Homo sapiens: one gene and its partners. The protein of the gene in region 2 purifies or fractionates together with the protein of the main gene of each other region. This does not show direct contact. Each region holds a gene or a part of one and is shown on either strand. Other genes may lie near its edges.

Evidence for each region.
Region 1: the proteins of RTBDN (region 2) and UBAC1 purify together in Homo sapiens (affinity purification with mass spectrometry; 3 studies listed by BioGRID and IntAct, with this or other methods). This does not show direct contact.
Region 3: the proteins of RTBDN (region 2) and ZER1 purify together in Homo sapiens (affinity purification with mass spectrometry; 3 studies listed by BioGRID and IntAct, with this or other methods). This does not show direct contact.
Region 4: the proteins of RTBDN (region 2) and AMD1 purify together in Homo sapiens (affinity purification with mass spectrometry; 2 studies listed by BioGRID and IntAct, with this or other methods). This does not show direct contact.
Region 5: the proteins of RTBDN (region 2) and TTC19 purify together in Homo sapiens (affinity purification with mass spectrometry; 3 studies listed by BioGRID and IntAct, with this or other methods). This does not show direct contact.
Region 6: the proteins of RTBDN (region 2) and GAS6 purify together in Homo sapiens (affinity purification with mass spectrometry; 3 studies listed by BioGRID and IntAct, with this or other methods). This does not show direct contact.

The regions. Positions count from the first base shown.
Region 1 is NC_000009.12:135,944,371-135,948,089, reverse strand, and holds part of UBAC1 (ubiquitin-associated domain-containing protein 1), read left to right. Parts: intron 1-184; coding exon 185-292; intron 293-1,718; coding exon 1,719-1,821; intron 1,822-2,092; coding exon 2,093-2,201; intron 2,202-2,839; coding exon 2,840-3,062; intron 3,063-3,719.
Region 2 is NC_000019.10:12,828,186-12,831,703, reverse strand, and holds part of RTBDN (retbindin isoform 1 precursor), read left to right. Parts: intron 1-1,024; exon of another isoform or gene 1,025-1,092; intron 1,093-1,275; exon of another isoform or gene 1,276-1,422; intron 1,423-1,706; coding exon of another isoform or gene 1,707-1,724; coding exon 1,725-1,893; intron 1,894-2,750; coding exon 2,751-2,835; intron 2,836-2,936; coding exon 2,937-3,047; intron 3,048-3,518.
Region 3 is NC_000009.12:128,733,928-128,737,484, reverse strand, and holds part of ZER1 (protein zer-1 homolog), read left to right. Parts: intron 1-2,053; coding exon 2,054-2,151; intron 2,152-3,557. UniProt on the Homo sapiens protein: Serves as substrate adapter subunit in the E3 ubiquitin ligase complex ZYG11B-CUL2-Elongin BC. Acts to target substrates bearing N-terminal degrons for proteasomal degradation with the first four residues of substrates being the key recognition elements.
Region 4 is NC_000006.12:110,888,117-110,891,835, forward strand, and holds part of AMD1 (S-adenosylmethionine decarboxylase proenzyme), read left to right. Parts: intron 1-219; exon of another isoform or gene 220-290; intron 291-740; coding exon 741-867; intron 868-2,137; coding exon 2,138-2,240; intron 2,241-3,719.
Region 5 is NC_000017.11:16,002,704-16,006,422, forward strand, and holds part of TTC19 (tetratricopeptide repeat protein 19, mitochondrial isoform 1 precursor), read left to right. Parts: intron 1-89; coding exon 90-128; intron 129-1,127; coding exon 1,128-1,184; intron 1,185-1,497; coding exon 1,498-1,559; intron 1,560-3,719. UniProt on the Homo sapiens protein: Required for the preservation of the structural and functional integrity of mitochondrial respiratory complex III by allowing the physiological turnover of the Rieske protein UQCRFS1.
Region 6 is NC_000013.11:113,826,077-113,829,795, reverse strand, and holds part of GAS6 (growth arrest-specific protein 6 precursor), read left to right. Parts: intron 1-1,084; coding exon 1,085-1,249; intron 1,250-2,631; coding exon 2,632-2,800; intron 2,801-3,719. UniProt on the Homo sapiens protein: Ligand for tyrosine-protein kinase receptors AXL, TYRO3 and MER whose signaling is implicated in cell growth and survival, cell adhesion and cell migration.

The DNA of each region.
Region 1 (3,719 bases), on a different chromosome or scaffold from region 2:
ACGTCTGCTGTCCCTGGGCCTTGCACAGAACTCTCCAGGCTCCCCCAGCTCATCAAGGAGTTTACACCTCTGGCTCCTAAAGGAGACGGAGTCTTTCTTGGGCAGAGCTCCGCTGATTCAGTTGTCATCGTCTTTTTGCTGCTCTTACGTTCACCTCAGACTTTCTGATTACGTTTCTGTGTAGAAAAAACAAGACCAGAAAGCTCCAGATAAAGAGGCCATACTGCGGGCCACCGCCAACCTGCCCTCCTACAACATGGACCGGGCCGCGGTCCAGACCAACATGAGAGACGTGAGTGTCAGCCCAGAGCGGCGGCGGGTGCATGGGGTCCCCGTGTGGGGGATTGCTGTGGGGGGGTTCCTGCGGGGCGGGGCAGCAAGAGGAGATTCTCTGGGAGGATTTGGGGAAGCCGGTGAGCGGGTCTGTAGGACTGCACTATTTTGCATTTTTTCTGTAAATCAAAAATTATTTCCAAGTAAGAGTTGGAAAGCCATCTGAAGGCAGGATTGAAAAGATAGATACCCCTGGGAAAACGTCAATCCGGCCCTGAGTTTGGCAAAACGTTTAGATAGAATTCTGAACCCGAAGCGGGTGGATCACCTGAGGTCAGAAGTTCGAGACCAGCCTGGCCAACATGATGAAACTCCGTCTCTACTAAAAATACCAAAAATTAGCCGGGCGTAGTGGCAGGCACCTGTAATCCCAGCTATTCAGGAGGCTGAGACAGGAGAATCACTTGAACCCGGGAGGCGGAGGTTGCAGTAAGCCGAGATTGCATCATCGTACTCCAGCCTCGGCAGCAAGAGCGAAACTCCGTCTCAAGAAAAAAAAAAACACACAAATCTGAACCCGTGAGTTATTTTGGGTCAGAACATTCTAAGTTAAAAAAGAAAAGTGTTTGCAGTGCTCACGTGGACGCCGCAGCAGGCAGGGCAGGCACGTGCTGTGCCGGGGTGGGAGGACGGCTGGCTTCCAACTTCATCTGATGCCAGTCCAACCTAAGGGCACTGCTATAAGCCCTGTTTCATTTTAGGAATGAACCTCTTGGGGTGTCTTCCAGAGAGTTCTGTGCTGACCAGGGCATGGTGGCTTTTCCCCAGCAGCCAGCATGTGTGTCTCCCATCCTGTGTGTGTCCGGCTCAGAGGTATTTCTCTAGTGTGGTGTCCGCACCAAGGCTCACACTTGTGTGAGAGTAGGGACAGCTGACGCCTGACCTCTAGGCCCTGTAGCCAGGAGCTGTTCTGGAGGGCATCTCCGGTCCATCCCACGGCTCCTCCTGCCTGGGGAGGACAGTGATGGCCGCCGCAGACGCTGTGTGGCAGCCATGCCTCCACTGGGGGCTGGCAGACTCATGGGGGTGGAGCCTCAGATGATTCTGTTTTCTTCAGTGAAGCCAGAGAGGGTCTTCAGCTTGCCCTGCACCTGCGCCAGCTGGGCCGACGGTTTCCTCACAGGGCACAGGCTGAGTATCGGGCCAGCACTGAGTGACCGTCACCAGGCGTTCCTGTCCCTTTCCACTGGCTTCAGTCCCACCTGCAGGGAGGCTCTTGGCCCTGCCAATCCCCTGCCTTGCCCTCAGCTGATCCTGCTGTCTTGCAAGAAAGCAATGTCATCTCAACTCTCAGAATCAAGAGTTCTAGGACAGGGGAGCAAGTCATAGATCCAAGTAGGTTTGGTGGACATTTAGAGAATTGATCTCCTTTTTTTTCACCACAGTTCCAGACAGAACTCCGGAAGATACTGGTGTCTCTCATCGAGGTGGCGCAGAAGCTGTTAGCGCTGAACCCAGATGCAGTGGAATTGTTTAAGAAGGCGAATGGTATGAGTCAACCCCGATGCTGCATTCCAGGGCGGTTCACTGCCGGCCTTGGGGAGCGTCTGCAGCTCCACGCACTGACCACTGACCGGAACCTCAGTGCTTTATGGAAGCGCTGATGAGGGCCTGGGGCCTGCCTCACCGGCAACTCCTGTTGATGTGCCTGAGGGCGGGCAGGTGGAGCTCAGACAGATAATTGCTGCAAATGTTTGTGCTCAGATAAGGCCCCTGAACCTGAGGCTGGAGCCCTCATGGCCCTGTCGTCTCCCTGCAGCAATGCTGGACGAGGACGAGGATGAGCGTGTGGACGAGGCTGCCCTGCGGCAGCTCACGGAGATGGGCTTTCCGGAGAACAGAGCCACCAAGGCCCTTCAGCTGAACCAGTGCGTGGGGGGCCACCTCCTTCCCTTGCCGGAGACACCTGGGGCCTGGTTTTGTGGGGCTCCCACCGTGGGTGACGTCCTCCTACCCTAAACTCTTTGACTGAATCATTTCTAACGTGGGGTTTTGAAGAGGTACCTTAAATATGTGCCTCCAAAGTGTTTTTGGGGTGAATGTGACAGAACAGTCGTTGTGTAAATTCTCTTTGGGCCGTTGTATGAGAACTCAAGGTGAATCCCGTTCGTAGCAGGGACACGGCCTCTAACAGTCTTCTCAGGATTCCCGTGTGAGTTACTTGCCCTGCTTCTGTGTTCAGATCTAAAATGAATAATCCGAGATCCAGGGGCAGCCGGGGGCAGTTCCCCCTGTGGTCCCTATCTAAGCCCTCAGCAGATATCTCTGGGTCCGCTTGCCTCTCCTTAGACATGGGCTTCTGATTCTGCCCAGGGTCTCAAGGTAGTCTGAGGCAAGGACCAGCGCTTCCGTCGCACCTGTGTTCATTCAGGTTCTTGTTATAAGGGTCACCAGCTGATGCTGGAGAAGTCACTACCATAGCAGAGGCTCTTCTTGGGAATGGACAGGAGGCGAAGGCCCTGGTCCGTTAGTCTGGGGATGTTGGAAAGAGTCTCTTGCCTTGCAGCATGTCGGTGCCTCAGGCCATGGAGTGGCTAATTGAACACGCAGAAGACCCGACCATAGACACGCCTCTTCCTGGCCAAGCTCCCCCAGAGGCCGAGGGGGCCACAGCAGCTGCCTCCGAGGCTGCCGCGGGAGCCAGCGCCACCGATGAGGAGGCCAGAGATGAGCTGACGGAAATCTTCAAGAAGATCCGGAGGAAAAGGGAGTTTCGGGCTGATGCTCGGGTATGTGTTACTAGACCTGTCGCCAGGCAGAGTCGCTGTGTCTTCCCTTGAGGTGGCGCCATGGAAAGGAAGCTGGGGCTGCATGGCTGACCTTGGGCTGAGCTGGCTCCTGTCCCAGGAGAGAGAGAAGCTGGGGAAGGGGTTTACAGGTGGGCCTGGGAAATGGCGAGCCTGGGGGCGGTGGGCCTGGGGACCGTGGCCCGAGTTTCTGAGCACACCTGTAAGTTATCCTGGCTTGAATCCAGGCGCCCCAGTTTCCTCTGTGTTGCCACATTCGTCACCTTTTGAAAAACTTGATATTTTACAGTTCCTTCTGACCACTCATCCACAAGCCCCCCCTGTTCGGCAGCCTCTCTGCGGGGTGGGGGCCCTGCCCAGAGACCGGGAGGGTCATTTGCCGTCGGGGGTGTCCATGAGCGAGGGGCCGCTCAGGCTGCCAGCCGCCTCCATGGCACAGTCTGCAGGGCTGAAGGGTCCCTGCGCCTGTGTGTGTGGACCTTCCTCGCCCGCGCCTCATCTCCCCATTCTTCCTTCTCTCTCCTGTTCTTTGATTCGGGTTTTACTTCCTCCTTGGAGGTTTCTGTCTGTCTCCGACATGCTCAGATGGCAGATCTGCTCCATCTGCATGCTGTCGTCTCGTGTGGCACTGATCGTTTC
Region 2 (3,518 bases):
GACAGAGTTTCACTCTGTTGCACAGGCTGGAGTGCAGTGGAACAATCTTGATTCACTGCAACCTCTGCTTCCCAGGTTCAAACTATTTTCATGCCTCAGCCTCCTGAACTGCTGAGATTACAAGCATGTGCCACCATGCCCAGCTATTTTTGATTATTTTTAGTAGAGATGGGGTTTCACCACGTTGGCCAGCCTGGTTTCAAACTCCTGGGCTCAAACGATCCTTCTACTTCAGCTTCCCAATGTGCTGGGATTACAGGTGTGAACCACCATGCCTGGCTGAAATTTTCATGTCTTGTTCACTACTGCATCCCCAGAATCTAGCACACAGTAGGTGCTCAATAAATGTTTGTTGAATGAATGGATGAGTTAAAGGAGTGTTCACAAGCAACACACATTCACAGAAACTTCAGAAGGACACATAATGTGTGCACACAAACACATCCTGCTCAGCACATGACATTTCTTTGTTCATTCATGGTCAACCTTCATGGTCAAAAACCTTTATCCACTGACTTCCAACATTTTTGCAGGGACACTAACCCAATGCTACATTTCCCCTTCTCACATTTATTAAGATCCTGTTTTATTCAACTGCAAACACATTGCTTGGGACACACAATCCTCCCCCAGATTCTGAACGTATACACACACACACACACACACACACACACACACACACACACAACCACTCCACCAAGAAACACACATAAACATAACCTCATACAACAAAAACACACATACATGCTCAACACACACACAGCCACACAAACAAAAGACACAGGTGCCTGGGAACACACACAGGCTATAGGCCACACAAACACACCTTCCTCACACACATACACACACACACACACACACACACTCCCCACATATATAGATACAGAGCTTAAGCCACAAGCTGAACATAAAAACAAACACAAGGATATATACACACCAGCCCCAAGTCGGCCAGCCTTTGGTCAGCTGGAGTGTGGGCAGGACGGTGGGAGGTCCCGCCCCTGCATTAAGCCACGCCCCTTTCAGCAGCCAGTTTCCTGGACTGGATCCTGAGGTGTCTTAGCGGCCTCTAGACCCCAATCCAGCCAACAGGTGAGGGGCTGAATGCGGGGAGGCGGGAAGGGGACAGTCTTGTCTCCACAGACCGCTAGCTGTCCCTGCCTCGGGGCTTTGGGCCCCAGTGACAGAACCTGAGCCCTGCCACACCAGCCTTGGTCCCAAAGGTCCAGCTCTGGGTGGCCCCTAAGCCGATTGTGGGCCGAGAGAAGGTGACCCAGAGAAGGGCCGGCAGGGAGCGAGAGAGGGAGGAGGGAGGCCGCATAGAAGAGAGGGAGGAATTACTGAACAGGAGAGGGGGATTGGAAGACCTAGGGAGGTCCCCTTCATTCTGAGAAAAGAAGGGGTCTCTTGAAGACTAAAAAGGTGGGAGATCCTGCTGGATGGGAGGAGGGCCACTGTGGTCTAAGCTTGGTTGGGGTGGCACTGAAGGGACATAGAGGACATGGTTCTGATGGGAGGGGGGCTCCTAGGTTGGAGGCAGGCCCTGATGGTCTCCTGGGATTTGAACGTCCTTGGCCACTGCCCCAGCCTCCTCCTCAGCTGCACTTTCCCTACTCTGCCTGGCACTGCTTCTTGGGTATGCACTGGGTGGGTGCCACCCTAAGCTCACAGAAAGGGATGGCTGAACCCCACCCTATGCCTGCCAGCTCTTATCTCAGGTGGACATGGACTGCAGGGTCCACATGCGACCCATCGGCCTGACGTGGGTGCTGCAACTGACCTTGGCATGGATCCTGCTAGAAGCCTGTGGAGGGAGCCGCCCACTCCAAGCCAGGTCCCAGCAACACCATGGGCTGGCAGCTGATCTGGGCAAAGGCAAGCTGCACCTGGCAGGTGAGCACCCCAGACCCTGCCTCACCACCAACACCCAGAAACCCACACCTACCCTGCCATGACAATGTTAGAATTTCCTTATGAGAGGGGCCTAGCATGGCCACCAAGGTGGGAGGCACGGATAGTGCTGAAGAATGGTGGATAAGAATTAGACTGCCTGGGTTCAAATCCCAACTCTGCCACTTTGTAGCTGTGTGATCCTGAGGAAGTCATTTAACCTCTCTGGGTCTCACATGGACCCCCAAAAAGAGAGAAATAACAAATATACCTCGCAGAGCTGTTGTTAAGATTAAGCATATAAGCATATGAGCAGGGCTCGGTGGCTCACGCCTATAATCCCAGCACTTTGGGAGGCTGCAGTGGGCAGATCATTTGAGGTCAGGAGTTTGAGACCAGCCTGGCCAGCATGGTGAAACCCCTGTCTCTACTAATAATACAAAAATTAGCTGGACGAGGTGGCATGCGCCTGAAATCCCAGCTACTTGGGAGGCTTAGGCACGAGAATTGTTTGAACCTGGGAGGTGGAGGTTGCAGTGAGCCAAGATCACGCCACTGCACTCCAGCCTGGGTGACAGAGTGAGGCCCTGTCTCAAAAGAAAAAAAGAAAAAAAAAAAAGGAAAAGGATTAAGTATATGTGTCACTACCAGGCACATGACAAGTAAGTTGATTATTATAAACAAGAAATGATTATTACTACTTGAAGCTGCATTTGCATTCCAAAGGAAGGGTCTTAAGTTATGGGTTTGTGAGGATTGATGTAATTGTTGTCTCCCCTGTCCAGGGGATCCCCAGGCCTCAGTTCCCAAACCTTACCTGAATATCCAAGACCCTAGCTCACAGGGTTCCCCTTTGCCAGGACCTTGTTGTCCCTCAGAGATGGACACAACAGAGACATCGGGCCCTGGAAACCATCCAGAACGCTGTGGAGTGCCGAGCCCTGAGTGAGTACAGCACCCTCCACCGTTTTCTCGCGTACTTTGCCCATTGCCCAGGAACTCCCTCGGGTCCTGACCCATCCGACCCTATCTCTCCCAACGTCCAGATGCGAATCCTTCCTGGAACACCTCCAACGTGCCCTTCGCAGTCGCTTCCGCCTGCGGCTATTGGGGGTACGCCAGGCACAGCCGCTCTGCGAGGAGCTCTGCCAGGCCTGGTAGGAGACGCGGGGGCAAGGGGCGTGGGTTGTGACTTGGGCGGGGAAGAGGGCGGAGCCTGCAGTTTGCTTGGCCTTCTGTGTAAAGGGGAGTGGCCTCCAACAGGGCCAAGGTTTAAGAGATGCAGCTTAATGTTTAGAGCCCAGGTAGATAGGGGCGAGGCATGAGAAGCCCCCAGCTTTTAAGATACCTGCCATATGGCAATGTGGCTTTTCATAGCCCTGCGATTTCTTTTCTTTTCTTTCTTTCTTTTTTTTTTTGAGATGGAGTCTCACTGTGTCACCTAGGCTGGAGTGCAGTGGTGCAATCTCGGCTCACTGCAACCTCCACTTCCCGGGTTCAAGCGATTCTCCTGCCTCACCCTCCTGAGTAGCTGTGGTTACAGGCGCACACCACCATGCCCGGCTAATTTTTGTATTTTTAGTAGAGACGAGGTTTCACTATGTTGGTCAGGCTGGTCTCAGACTCCT
Region 3 (3,557 bases), on a different chromosome or scaffold from region 2:
GATGGACATTTCAGTTGAAAACCCATACTGGGAGGAACAGGCTGACATTGGTAGCGTTGCCAGTGTGCCAAGTACTATAGTTCTTGGGGAGAAAGGAAGCGGAATCGCTGGCCCAGGAGTTTTGCACACACGTGTTTCAGGCTTTTGGACCATGACTCCAGGCTGGCCCACAGAAGGCCCTCGTCAGAAGAGCAGTCACAGGCCGGATGCGGTGGCTCACACCTAGAATCCCAGCCACTTTGGGAGGCCAAGGCAGGAAGATCACTTGAGCTCAGGAGTTTGAAACCAGCCTGGGCAATATAGTGAGCCCTCACCTCTACAAAAAAAAAAATTTTTTTTTTGAGACGGAGTCTCGCACTGTCACCCAGGCTGGAGTGCAATGGTGTGATCTTGGCTCACTGCAACCCCCGTCTCCCAGGTTCAAGCGATTCTCCTGTCTCAGCCTCCCGAGTAGCTGGGATTACAGGTGCACGTTACCATGCTCAACTAATTTTTTGTACTTTAGTGGAGACGGGGTTTCACTGTGTTGCCCAGGTTGGTCTCAAACTCCTGAGCTCAGGCAATCCACCCCCCTCAGCCTCCCAAAGTGCTAGGATTACAGGTGTGAGCCATTGCACCTGGCCAAAAAAAATTTTTTTTTAATTAGCCAGGCATGGTGGCTCACACCTATAGTCCCAGCTCCTCAGGAGGCTGAGGTGGGAGGAACACTTGCATGGCCTGGAAGGTCAAGGCTGCAGTGAGCTGTGATCATGCCACTGCACTCCAGCCTGGGCAGCAGAGCGAGACCCTTTCTCCAAAAAAAAAAAAAAAAAGGCCAGGCATGGTGGCTCACGCCTGTAATCCTAGCACTTTGGGAGGCCAAGGCGGGTGGTCAGGAGTTCAAGACCAGCCTGGCCAACAGCAAAATGATGCTCTAACCAAAAATTAGCTGGGCATGGTGGCATGCACCTGTAGTCCCAGCTACTCGGGAGGCTGAGGCAGGAGAATCATGTGAACCCAGGAGGCAGAGGTTGCAGTGAGCCGAGATTGCACCACTGAACTCCAGCCTGGGCGACAGAGTGAGACTCCGTCTCAAAAAAAAAAAAAACAAAGAAAAAAGGGCTGGACATGGTGGTTCACGCCTATAATCCCAGCACTTTGGGAGGCCAAGGCAGGTGGATCACTTGAGGTCAGGAGTTCGAAACCAACCTGGCCAACATAGTGAAACCCTGTCTCTACCAAAAATACAAAATTTAGGCCGGGCGCGGTGGCTCACGCCTATAATCCCAGCACTCTGGGAGGCTGAGGTGGGTGGATCACGAGGTCAGGAGATCGAGACCATCCTGGCTAACACGGTGAAACCCCGTCTCTACTAAAAAATACAAAAAAATTAGCCGGGTTTGGTGGTAGGCGCCTGTAGTCCCAGCTACTCGGGAGGCTGAGGCAGGAGAATGGCGTGAACCAGGGAGGCGGAGCTTGCAGTGAGCCGAGATCATGCCACTGCACTCCAGCCTGAGCGACAGAGCAAGACTCTGTCTCAAAAGAAAAAAAAATGCAAAAATTAGCTGGGTGTGGTGGCACACCCCTGTAGTCTCAGTTACTCAGGAGGCTGAGGCAGGAGAATCGCTTGAACCCAGGAGGCAGAGGTTGCAGTGAGTGGAGATTGCACCAGTGCACCCCAGCCTGGGCAACAGAGCGAAACTCCGTCTCACAAAAAAAAAAAAAAAAAAAAAAAAAAAAAAAACCAGGTCACACGTGCTTCTGTTCCCAGGGTGCCTCTCCCCTCTTCCCCACAGGCTGGGTCTCTGCTCCTTGCTGAGGTCTCCAGCTTTCTGCTCCTCCTAATCTGGGTCCCTTGTGCCTCCCTCATGTGCTTGTGCCTTTATCCTCTCCAAGGGAACCTTGTTGTGCAGCCTGCCAGTGGGATGCAGGGCCAGCTGTCCCTTCTCCCTGGCATCCTGCCAGCCTATCATGGTTGGTCACTAGGATTCTCCAGTGGGAGGAAACCTCAGACAAGAAAAGACACACTCCCCACCCTCAGCATCCACAGTGACCTTGATTTCTTTTCCTGCAGGTCATTTGAACCAATTCTCCGCCTCCTTCCCCAGGGAATCTCTCCTGTCAGCCAGCACTGGGCAACCTGGGCCCTGTATAACCTCGTGTCTGTCTACCGTGAGTGCCAACTTGTCCTGGGTTCAGACACTCATCCAGCTGAAAGCAGATGTGCCCTCAGGGAGTTTGTAGTCCAGGAGGGGGGCATTAATTGCTGCTGTCAGCTTTTGTGCCTCAGAGCAGAACCCTCCACTTTCCAGCGTTTGTGGGACACCCAGCTTAAGGGCTCACTCCTGCCTCATCACCAGAAGCAGGCCTGGCAGGCGAAATACCTGTGCAGAGTTCCTAGACAGCTTTCTTAATGCTTCCCGCTTCCATGTGCAGGAACAGTCCAAAATCTCCATGCCTGCTGGGCTCAGTGGTGCACACCAGCTATTCAGGAGGCCGAGACAGGAGAATTGCCTGAGGTCTGGAGTTTCCAGCTGCAATGACCTATGATCATGCCTGTGAATAGCCATTGCACTCCGGCCTGAGCAACATAGTGAGACCCCCATCTCCAGAAGTAAAATAAAAGTCTCCATGCTGTCTGCATGAAAAAAAAAAAAAACACATACCATCAGCTGGTTCCAACCTGGCAGGTCACCAGAATCACCTGGTAAAAATACAGATAAATCTTAGTCCTTGGATTTGTTGAAAAAGAATATCCAGAGACAGGGCTTAGAAATCTATATTTTTACAGAAATTCCTCAAAGGATCACCATCTTTAGGAGCCACTGGTTTCACTGGTTTGGGTGACATCTTCCATAGAATGAGCGCTGGAGGCCAGGCATAGTGGCTCACACCTGTAATCCCAGCACTTAGGGAGGCTGAGGTGGGAGGATTGTTTGAGCCCAAGAGGTTGAGACCAGCACAGGCAACACAGCGCAACCCTGTCTCTACTTAAAAAAAAAAAAATTAGTCCGGGTGCAGTGGCTCATGCCTGTAATCCTAGCACATTGGGAGGCTGAGACGGGCAGATCATTTGAGGCCAAGAGTTTGAGACCACCCTGGCCAACATAGTGAAACCCCGTCTCTACTAAAAATACAAAAATTAGCTGGGCTTGATGGCACGTGCCTGTAGTCCCAGCTACTAGGGAGGCTGAGACAAAATAATCGTTTGAACCCAGGAGGCAGAGGTTGCAGTGAGCTCAGATCGTGCCACTGCACTCCAGCCTGGGTGACAGAGTGAGACTCTGTCTCAAAAAAAAAATTATATCTATTATATATATATATATATTTTTTTTAAGATTTTATATATATATATATATATTTTTTTTTTTTTTTTTTGAGACGGAGTTTTGCTCTGTCGCCCAGGCTGGAGTGCAGTGGCGCGATCTCGACTCACTGCAAGCTCCGCCTCCCGGGTTCACGCCATTCTCCTGCCTCAGCCTCCCGTGTAGCTGGGACTACAGGCGCCCGCCACCATGCCTGGCTAATTTTTGTATTTTTAGTAGAGACGGGGTTTCACCGTGTTAGCCAGGATGGTC
Region 4 (3,719 bases), on a different chromosome or scaffold from region 2:
TAAAGAAGGACCTCTTAATTAGAAGTTCAGGCAAAGGGAAAGTTAGCTTCTCTATACAAATACAGTTGTCTAATTGGTATATAAAAGCTCATCACCTTTTTTGTAGTTGCAGAGTTAATTTATTCCATAAATACTTTTAATGCTTATAGTATATATTGTGATGGGCCTTGCTGGGGGATACTGGACTAAACAGCCCCTCCCCCCCTTTTTTTTTCTGAGGCGGAGTCTCAGTCTGTCCAGGCTGGAGTGCATTGGCGCAATCTCCTCTCACTGCAACCTCTGCCGCCCAGGTTCAAGCGATTTTCTTGCCTCAGCCTCCCAAGTAGCTGGTATTACAGGCGCCTGCCACTGTGCCCGGCTAATTTTTGTATTTTTAGTAGAGACGGGGTTTCATCATCTTGGCCAGGCTGGTCTTGAACTCCTGACGTGGTGATCCACCTCGGCCGCCTAAAGTGCTGGGATTACAGGTGTGAGCCACTGTGCCTGGCCTCTCTCTTTTTTTTTTTTAAACTAAGTTTATATTATGAATATACGAATGTTTATCAAAATGCTTACCATGTGCCAAGCCCTGGGGATGTTTTGTATACTAGAAAAGGAAAAGAATAATGTGTTACTTGCTTCCTTGAGATCCTAATATTTAAAAGTACTAGCCAAAATTGTAAATGATAATTAAATTGGTTGATTGCACCCTCAGTAGTACATTAGTATTGTTATAATATTGTGACTTTTTTCAACTGCAGTGAGAGTAGCATGTTTGTCTCCAAGAGACGTTTCATTTTGAAGACATGTGGTACCACCCTCTTGCTGAAAGCACTGGTTCCCCTGTTGAAGCTTGCTAGGGATTACAGTGGGTTTGACTCAATTCAAGTAAGTAAGCAAACATTTAAATATTTTTCAGGCATAAATGTTAGCGTTCTTATCCTGTAATATGCGAAGTAAATAAATTTATATACTTACTGCCTTTGTTACAATGCATGCAAACACGTGGTAAGGTGTTCATACCTTAGGAAGAGATCTGATTCTCAAGAACAGCAGAAAATAGGAAGCAGAGAATGAGTTAGGATGAAATTCAAATGGGAGAAAGAAATGAAGAAGCCAGACACTTCCAGTAGTTAATTTCTTAACATGGCTACTTATAATAATAGAGAAATGGTAAGAAAAGAAGGAAAAGCAAGAAAAATGTCGTTACTGAAATTGTCCAGTCTTTATAATGAAGAGTTAGGATGAAGAGCAACAGTCAGTATTGAGTTAAATTCTTATACTTTTCAAGAACTAAGGTGTTTTTACCTAGGGTATAATTTTCTGATTAGCAGTTGTTACATTTTATTTATTTTTTATTTTTTTGAGATGGAGTTTCGCTCTTGTTTCCCAGGCTGGAATGCAATAGCACGATCTCAGCTCACTGCAATCTGCACCTCCCAGGTTCAAGTGATTCTCCTGCCTCAGCCTCCCAAGTAGCTGGGATCACAGGTGCCCACCACCATGCCTGGCTAATTTTTTTTGTATTTTTAGTAGAGACGGTGTTTCACCATGTTGGCCAGGCTGGTCTCTTAACTCCTGACCTCAGGTGTTCCACCCACCTCAGTCTCCTAAAGTGCTGGGATTGCAGGCGTGAGCCACTGCACCCGGCCTGAATTTTAATCTTTAACTTCATAAGGAAAGGATGGATTGTCATTAGTACTCAATACAGTTTTTGTTGTTATGAATTGATCCTTGTAAGAAATCTAAAGCAATGTGTGCTTAACCGATGCTTAAAACTAATATGTTATTCCCCCCAAATTTTTGCTTATATGACTATTAATAAGCTCAGTTTAGAAACTACTGTTCTAGAAAGGAATATACTTGGTGTTAATAGTTGTTATGACCCATCATCACTAGACTGGGCTTTTTAAAAAAAAGAGAGAGAGAGAGAGATGGGGCCTCAGTATGTTGCCCAGGCTGGACTCCTGGGCCAAGTGATCCTCCTGCCTCCTAATAGCGAGACTACAGGCATATGCTACCATGCCAAGCTAAAATATTTGAGTTTTGATTTTGCCGAGTTTTTGATATGTGGACAATAGTTGATTAGCTTCGAAAAGTGATAGAATTCTACATCTAAAGTCATCTTTTTTTTTCTTTCTTTTCTTTTTTAATAAAGAGCTTCTTTTATTCTCGTAAGAATTTCATGAAGCCTTCTCACCAAGGGTACCCACACCGGAATTTCCAGGAAGAAATAGAGTTTCTTAATGCAATTTTCCCAAGTAAGTTTAAATAAAATATAAACCTGTTGTCTTCTTAAAGATAGAAAGTGCAACCTCAGAGATCTTTCTATATGAGAGCATACTTATGCATATATAGCATTCTACACACACTAATACTTGCTTTTCTTGTGGGTTTTTTGGTTTGTTTTAGACAGGGGTCTCATTCTGTCACCCATGCTGGTGCAGTGGTGTGATCACAGCTCACTGCAGCCTCAACATCCCAGGCTTAAGTGATCCTCCCACCTTAGCCTCCCAAGTAGCTGGGGCTACAGATGTTTGCCACCCCACCTGGCTAATTTTTTTTTAATTTTTAGTAAAGACAAGGTTTTGCCATATTGCCCAGGCCGGTCTTGAACGCCTGGGCTCAAGGGATCCACCTGCCTTGGCCTCCCAAAGTGCTAGGATTACAAGTGTGAGTTACTGCACCTGGTCCATATTTACTTTGACTTAGATGTTTTGGGAGTACAGTAGTGATCTTTATATAGCTTGTAATTCAAAATATGCAGAATTTATAAAGAACATTAAAATATCAGATAAAATATTTTTAGTTAAGATTAATAGCTTATTGCAAATTATGTATACACATGTAAAAATAATTGTGTATCATAAATCAGTGCTGTTTAAATGATGGAATTTTAAAATGTAGAATTGATCACCTGCCACCTCTGATTTTTCATACAGCATAGAGAGAGTTCATCTTCATCTGGCCATTCACTCTACTTTATGTCTCACTCAGTGGTTCTTTTTGCGTTTTTGTTTGAGACAAGTTTCACTTTGTCTCCCAGGCTGGAGAGCAGTGGCATCATTATAGCTCACTGCATTGTCAAACTCTTGAGTTCAAGCACCCAGCTAATTTTTATTTTATTTTTAGTAGAGATGGAATCTTGCTGTGTTGCCCAGGCTGGTCTTGAACTCCTGCCCTCTAGCAGTCCTCCAGCCTCAGTGGTTCTTAACATACAGATCATAATGTCCTTTGACAATATGAAGAAGGATATGATTCCCTTCAGAAAAATGCCTAGTGCTCTGCTCCAGCATTTTATATAATAATTGACCTGGCTTTTTAAAATTGCACAGTGTAAATTAGTGTTTCTTGAATGAAATTCGTAAGGGTTTCTTTCATCCATTTACTAAGCTTTTATTTATAGAGGTCAGGGAACAAAGGTTATCTGATAACATCCTTACTTCCTAGATAAGGCTGAAAACCTAAGATAATTTAGTAACTTTGCACAAAGTCGCTCATAAGCATGAAAATTGAACTTAGCACATCTACTAATATGAAACCAAACCAGGCTAATCAGAGTGTTGGGTATTTACTGCAAATACCCGCCAAGTCAGTCGATCCTGCTTATCTGGGAATTTACCTACTGTTTCCATTCCTTTCACTGATGACATTTCTTTTTTCTTGAGATGGCGTCTCGCTTTGTCACCCAGGCTGGAGTGGAGTGGCGTGATCTTGGCTCACTGCAACCTCCGCCTCCC
Region 5 (3,719 bases), on a different chromosome or scaffold from region 2:
AGGGTGAAAGCAAAAGGGAATTTTAAAGTTTTGAAATAAGTAGGAACACAGTATTCTAAACTGAAAAACAATTTGTAATTTGCTTTCAGATGGCCAACTTAGCATTTATACGGGGTCAGCTTGAAAATGTAAGTAAATTGCTTTGTAATATCTTGAATTTATGAAGGAGTAGCTTCAAGGGAACTGTAATAGTAAGAGTACAGGCTAAGCTGCTATAACAAAGAGACCCTAGAATATAGTGACTCAAACAAGATAAAAGTGTATTTCTCTTTATTGTGTTAGTCCAGAGATAGGCTAAAGACTGAAGGCAGACAGACATAGGCACCTTTGCTCTCTGATCCAGAAGTCCAGGTTTCTTCTAAGATAAGCCCTCCTCTGCCTAGGTGAGCTGACTCACCTCCAGTCTGCAGGAAGGGGGAGAAGATGGACTGTGAGCAGCTTCCTTATAAAACATGATTAGAAGTTCACGTTCTTTCTGCCTGCATCCCTTGGCCTAAATTTTATCATATGACCATATCTAACTTAAGGGTGTCCAATCTGCTAAAATTGACTGAATTTTTTTTTTAAGATAAGGTCTTGCTCTGTTGCCCAGGTTGGAGTGCGGTGGCTTAATCATGGCTGACTGCAACCTCGACCTGCCAGGCTCAGTTGATCCTCTCACCTCAGCCTCCTGAGTAGCTGGGATTCCAGGCGTGTGCCACAACACTTGGCTAATTTTCTTATTTATTTATTTATTTATTTATTTATTTATTGTAGAGACGGGATTTCACCATATTTCCCAGGCTAAATCGAGGGGACTCTGTAATCAAAAAGATGGAGAAGAGAATGACTATTAGGAGACAGTTTGTAGTCTCTGCCACAGTGGGTTTGGATAAGAACTTAATCTCTGAGGTTGTTTTCTACTCATCAGAGAGTAGTTTAAGGTACACAGAGGATGTTGAGGGTCCTGATATTTTGATCTGTTTTCGCTTCAAAAGGGTACTTTTCTGTGTGTGAGTGTGCGTGTGTGTGGGTATATGGGTTTTACAAGGAATGTTGCATCAGACTGGCACTTAGAATCCAGGGTCATATATATATATATAAAATGGGGCCCAATTAAAAGAAAAATCTTTTCCTTATGCTTTTAGGCTGAACAACTTTTTAAAGCAACAATGAGTTACCTCCTTGGAGGGGGCATGAAGCAGGTAAGGACATTGCCTAGTATTGGCCCCTCACTGAAGCAGTTTTCAAAACAGTCTTGTCTCCTGAAAACTCCTCCTAGCCCCACCACATGCTTTGGTCAGGAAAGGTGGAGTTTCCCTTCTGAGATCTCTATACAAATTGCCATTCTTTCACTAAATGCAACAGCATGCTTGCCAAGGAATTCACAGTTGGCTCATCACTCTAAAAGAATAAAGACTGTGGCTTTGAGGCCACCGTCAGTCTGGAAGTTGATCTGAAATATGCCATGAAAAAATTTACTTGTTATGAGTTCCCTTCATTCTCTTTCTCTCACAGGAGGACAATGCAATAATTGAAATTTCCCTAAAGCTGGCCAGTATCTATGCTGCGCAGAACAGGTAAGTACAGCAGCCAGGGAGTAGGACTGTGGGCAGGAAACTTTGACTCTGGGATGTTACATAATATTCATTGTCTACTGGTCATCTGGGTCTCCCAGAAATTGGGTGTCACACTCAAAGTGTTCCATCCCTCATCTTTGAAATTGTCAGTCTTTTTCCAGTTTGCCCCTACTGTTTCCATCAGCCTGCCTAGTGGGGCACACAACATCTCTGGCTGCCCTGTGACAAAACTAACTAAGTTTTCTGTTGCTGCTTGAAGTGGGAAGGGAAGTTAGAGTTAGAACTTTAGTTTAACTTTTCCTAGAAGAGGAAAGAGCAGTGTGAAAGCTGCTGGGGATAATATATTAATACTCTGAAGAAGCCATTTTGCTGGTATAAATAGAGTTCAAAGATGAAGCATCTAGGTTGTAAGCAGAGAACTCCTCTAGAGAGTTGTATTTGGGATGAATTTAGGGAGAGACCTAAGACTAGCTTCCCTTCAGGTTTTAGTGGTGCAGAAGTTGGTGCGAGAGGTTTGGAGTGACATGGAGCCTGATGCTGTAGAAAGGGTGCTCACTGAGGCCAGGCCCTGGCACTGTTCCCTACTGTCCTACTCACCAGCTCCTTTGTTCTCATCAGGACCTGCATAGTCTCCTTGCATTTTGATTGGACACTAGATAGGCTAGAGCTTCCTGGAGCCTTTGACTTCAAGTCTTTTGAGGAGCTTTGAGCTTGGCCCATGCCAGGGAACACTGCAGCTTGGTCAATCTTTCTTGGAGTTGTAACAAACATGCCTAGTTCTTGATTGGGTATGAATCCCTAGGGTAAGAAGAAGCCCAGAGCCTAATAAACATTGTTGAGTAAGACAAATTCATAGTCTTCTAGAGGTGAAAGCTAGTAACAATTAGCCTCTGAGTTACATGGTACTCTGTACTTTTCATTTTGTTTTATTAAGAGAAGCATGAGACTAGAAAAGACATGGCCAGATCTGAGGCTTCGAAAGGCTGATATAGGTTATGAGGGGAATTGTTTGTAGACCTCTTGCTCCGACTGGGAGCGTCTTCTGGGCAGTGTCCACTTGCCCTGTGTTATGGCTAGAGAGGGCCCTCTTGCCAAGTTTTGAGCGTAGGGAAGGAAGGGGATGCTTCTGTTCTTCTGAGAACAGAGCAGAACAGTAGGGTCATAAGTTCTCCCCTGGCAAAGCACTAGAGAACAGGTGAGCTTTTTAGTGCCACTTCTGTAAGAAACTAGAGCCAAAACTGAAGAAAAGAACCAAAGCTGAGCTCCTAAATGGAGAAGGGATTTCTGTCACATTTCCTCTGCATCTCTGTAAAAAGCAGCAGTCAGTCGGCCTGCTTGGGTTGACTCAACCCTCTCCAGTTGATTGAGGGTCCAGGGCTACAGAGTTGGGTTAAATGACTTCTATTGCCATAGCTAGGAGTCCCATTTCTGCAAAAGAAACTTTTATCAGAGACTTATAGCTTGAAAGAAATATAAAATGACTAAAGCTCCTCAGAAGCTGTATGAGGTCAACAGTTGGAATCCTCACTGTAGGGCGGCCTGAACTGTTTAGGGTAGTATTACTTTGAACAGGGGTAAGGCTTTCACACATGGAGAAGTTGATTCACTGGAGGCCATCTGTTAGTGGGAGATGATGAATACTGCTGGCTATGTCAGTTATTAAAATTAGGGCAGCATTCCTAGCTTTTTGTGTCCTAAGTTATATTAAATGGATGACTTAAAAAAACTGCTTTGAGAAATGGCAGATTTGACACTACTTAGACTTTAAGCAAAGTTCCCTCTTCCCATTTTACACTTCCTTTACTGATAATGTTTAAACTGAGCTGGAAAAATGAAGATAAAAAGAATTTGTGAAAAGGTAAATGGGCCGGGCGCAGTGGCTCACGCCTGTAATCCCACCACTTTGGGAGGCCGAGGTGGGTGGATCACTTAAGGTCAGGAGTTCCAGACCAGCCTGGCCAACATGGTGAAACTCTGTCTTTACCAAAAATACAAAAATTAGCTGGGCATAGTGGCGGGCACCTGTAATCCCAGCTATTCGAGAGGCTAAGGCAGGAGAATCGCTTGAACCCCGGAGGTGGAGGTTGCTCTGAGCCGAGGTCACGCCATTGCACTCCAGCCTGGGCAACAAGAGCGAAACTCCATCTCAACAGAAGGAAG
Region 6 (3,719 bases), on a different chromosome or scaffold from region 2:
GTGGCCTCCCTGAGATTGGGACCCTCTTGGCCCAGGTGAGGATCAGGTGGACTCCCTGAGGTCAGGTCCCTCTTGGCCCAGGTGAGGATCAGGTGGACTCCCTGAGGTCAGGTCCCTCTTGGCCCAGGTGAGGATCAGATGGTCTCCTTGAGATCAGGTCCCTCATGGCTCAGGTGAGGATCAGGTGGTCTCTCTGAGGTTGGGACCCTCTTGGCTCAGGTGTGGATCAGGTGGTCTCTCTGAAGTTGGGACCCTCTTGGCCCAGGTGAGGATCAGGTGGTCTCCCCGGGTCAGGTCCCTCTTGGCCCAGGTGAGGATCATGTGGTCTCCCTGAGATTGAGACCCTCTTGGCCCAGGTGAGGATCAGGTGGTGTCCCTGAGATTGGGACCTTCTTGGCTCAGGTGTGGATCAGGTGGTCTCCCTGAGGTCAGGTCCCTCTTGGCCAGGTGAGGATCAGGTGGTCTCCCTGAGATTGGGACCCTCTTCGCCCAGGTGAGGATCAGGTGGCCTCCCTGAGATTGGGACCCTCTTGGCCCAGGTGAGGATCATGTGGTCTGCCTGAGATTGAGACCCTCTTGGCCCAGGTGAGGATCAGGTGGTCTCCCTGAGATCGGGACCCTCTTGGCTCAGGGGAGGATCAGGTGGTCTCCCTGAGGTCGGGACCCTCTTGGCCCAGGTGAGGATCAGGTGGCCTCCCTGAGATCGGGACCCTCTTGGCCCAGGTGAGGATCATGTGGTCTGCCTGAGATTGAGACCCTCTTGGCCCAGGTGAGGATCAGGTGGTCTCCCTGAGATCGGGACCCTCTTGGCTCAGGGGAGGATCAGGTGGTCTCCCTGAGGTCGGGACCCTCTTGGCTCAGGGGAGGATCAGGTGGTCTCCCTGAGATCGGGACCCTCTTGGCTCAGGGGAGGATCAGGTGGTCTCCCTGAGGTTGGGACCCTCTTGGCCCAGGTGAGGATCAGGTGGCCTCCCCGAGGTCGGGACCCTCTTGGCTCAGGAGAGGATGAGTGTGGTTTTTCTCAGTTGGGAGCCCCTTCAGAACGTGCACTCCCATCTTTTCTCATGGCGCTGCCTCTCTTCAGATCTCTGTTGAGGAGCTGGCGCGGAATCTGGTCATCAAGGTCAACAGGGATGCTGTCATGAAAATCGCGGTGGCCGGGGACTTGTTCCAACCGGAGCGAGGACTGTATCATCTGAACCTGACCGTGGGAGGTATTCCCTTCCATGAGAAGGACCTCGTGCAGCCTGTGAGTACTGTACCTGTCCCTGTGTAGACGCGCCGTGTGCTGGGATCCCGGGAACGGTGTCAGGAAGCCTCAGTCACACCCTGCCCTGTGTTTACCATTAACCAGGTGTGAGGAGGACCTAGAGGAAGGAAAGGTTTCCTAGAGTTTGACAAAGTCGCCGTACAGCTATGTCATTAATTTTACCATCTCTTTTTATGAGACCTAAGTTTTCATCTGAATTGATAATAAAGTTGTCTATTTTTCAATGGAGATAAGACACAATTAAATTATTATTATTTTTTTTGAGACGGAGTCTTGCTCTGTTGCCCAGGCTGGAGTGCAGTGGCGCGATCTCGGCTCACTGCAAGCTCCGCCTCCCGGGTTCACGCCATTCTCCTGCCTCAGCCTCCCAGGCAGCTGGGACTACAGGCGCCCGCCACCACGTCCGGCTAATTTTTTTGTATTTTTAGTAGAGACGGGGTTTCGCCGTGGTCTCGATCTTCTGACCTCGTGAACTGCCCACCTCGGCCTCCCAAAGTGCTGGGATTACAGGCGTGAGCCACCGCGCCCGGCCGAAATTATTCTTTAACAGAACAGTAAACTTTTTTGGACAATTTCCAAGAACATTTTGGGTTTTGTAACTCTGCCGTGAGTCTCATAAGGGGAAAACAGCCATGATGGGCGGTCAGTGTGGGCCATTGCTCCAGGTCCCGCCTTCTCTCCCCTTCAGCACAGCACACGCCCGTGCCCCCGACCTGTGTCTCCAGCCCCCACGTGCTGACGTCTAAGCCGTCATCCTGGGTATTTTCACTTCCACACCAGGCAGGAGAAAGGCACGCATGTCTTCGCGTCTTTGGGTGCTGAGTGTCGGCAGTGCCTGTGCTGAAGCCACCCCTTCAGTGTTGTGAGGGGCACCTGCTCCCCAGGCCCACAGACTGCCTGGTGCCGGGACCTTCGGTGTTGTGAGGGGCACCTGCTTCCCAGGCCCACAGACAGCCTGGTGCCGGGACTTTGCCTGGCTGGACCCTCCTCGTTTCACAGATAAGGGGGTTGCCCTGATTTGCCCACAGCCATATTGAATATTGAATAATTCACATGAGTGTTGGATGGTTGAACAATCCATACTCTTTGACCTTAGACCCACATGGCCTTTTCAGTCCTTTCCTAGCTTTAAAATGAACCTTTAGTTCTTGAGCATACACCAGTGGAAATAGGTATTCTGCAGTGAGGCGTTGTGTAAAGTGAAGAAACCTTCTGTGAAATGGCCACCACCGATGGGACTGGCCCGTTTCTGCCGTAGAGCTGCACATACCAGGGCCGCGAAGGCGCCACCCACCGACTGGGGCATCCGGCATGGGGCTTCTCGCTCCCAGGAAGCCACGGAGATTTCTCTGCCTTTCCAGATAAACCCTCGTCTGGATGGCTGCATGAGGAGCTGGAACTGGCTGAACGGAGAAGACACCACCATCCAGGAAACGGTGAAAGTGAACACGAGGATGCAGTGCTTCTCGGTGACGGAGAGAGGCTCTTTCTACCCCGGGAGCGGCTTCGCCTTCTACAGCCTGGACTACAGTAAGTCTTGGCTCTTACCGTTGGGGTGGCTGTGGCTGCACCTTCAGACAGGCATACGCTGAAAGCAAGCAGACGGCCTCAGATGGCAGCGTCAGGACAAGCTGAGGCTCCTCCGGTTCCGGGGCAGGGATGGGTGGGCGGGGTGGGCGGAGGTGCGGGCAGAGGCCCACCTCTCAGGATGGCCATGCAGGTCACTCAGTTCAGAGTCAGCCAGTGAAGAAGAAATGAGAGAGATGTGCCGAGAAGGTGCCTGCGAAGCCAGTGCCAGGAGGCCGGGGAGAGAAGGTGCCTGCGAGGCCGGCGCCAGGAGGCGGGGGAGAGAAGGTGCCTGCGAGGCCGGCGCCAGGAGGCCGGGGAGAGAAGGTGCCTGCGAGGCCGGCGCCGGGAGGCCGGGGAGAGAAGGTGCCTGCGAGGCCAGCGCCGGGAGGCCGGGGAGAGAAGGTGCCTGCGAGGCCGGCGCCGGGAGGCCGGGGAGAGAAGGTGCCTGCGAGGCCGGCGCCGGGAGGCCGGGGAGAGAAGGTGCCTGCGAGGCCGGCGCCGGGAGGCTGGGGAGAGAAGGTGCCTGCGAGGCCAGCGCCGGGAGGCCGGGGAGAGAAGGTGCCTGCGAGGCCGGGGAGGCTGGGAGCCTTACAGGGTCCTTTGCAGAAAGTCCGGAGACAGCACAGCCTTAGGACTCGTCCAGGGGCACAGAGAAGCTCTCGGTAACATGGTGGACACCGTGGTCACCGATGACCCGGTGAGACAGCTACAATGGGAGGTGTGTAAAAACAGCCGTGAAGCTGCCTGGGGGACAGTGAACCTAGGCCTGAAAAAGGGAGGACAGGGTGGATGTGAGCTGCTGGCCCAGTCCTGTGACGCCACGCTGCCGCCCTCCCCAGTGCAGGCTCCGGGGGTGCTGCTGTGAGGATAGTGTTACTGC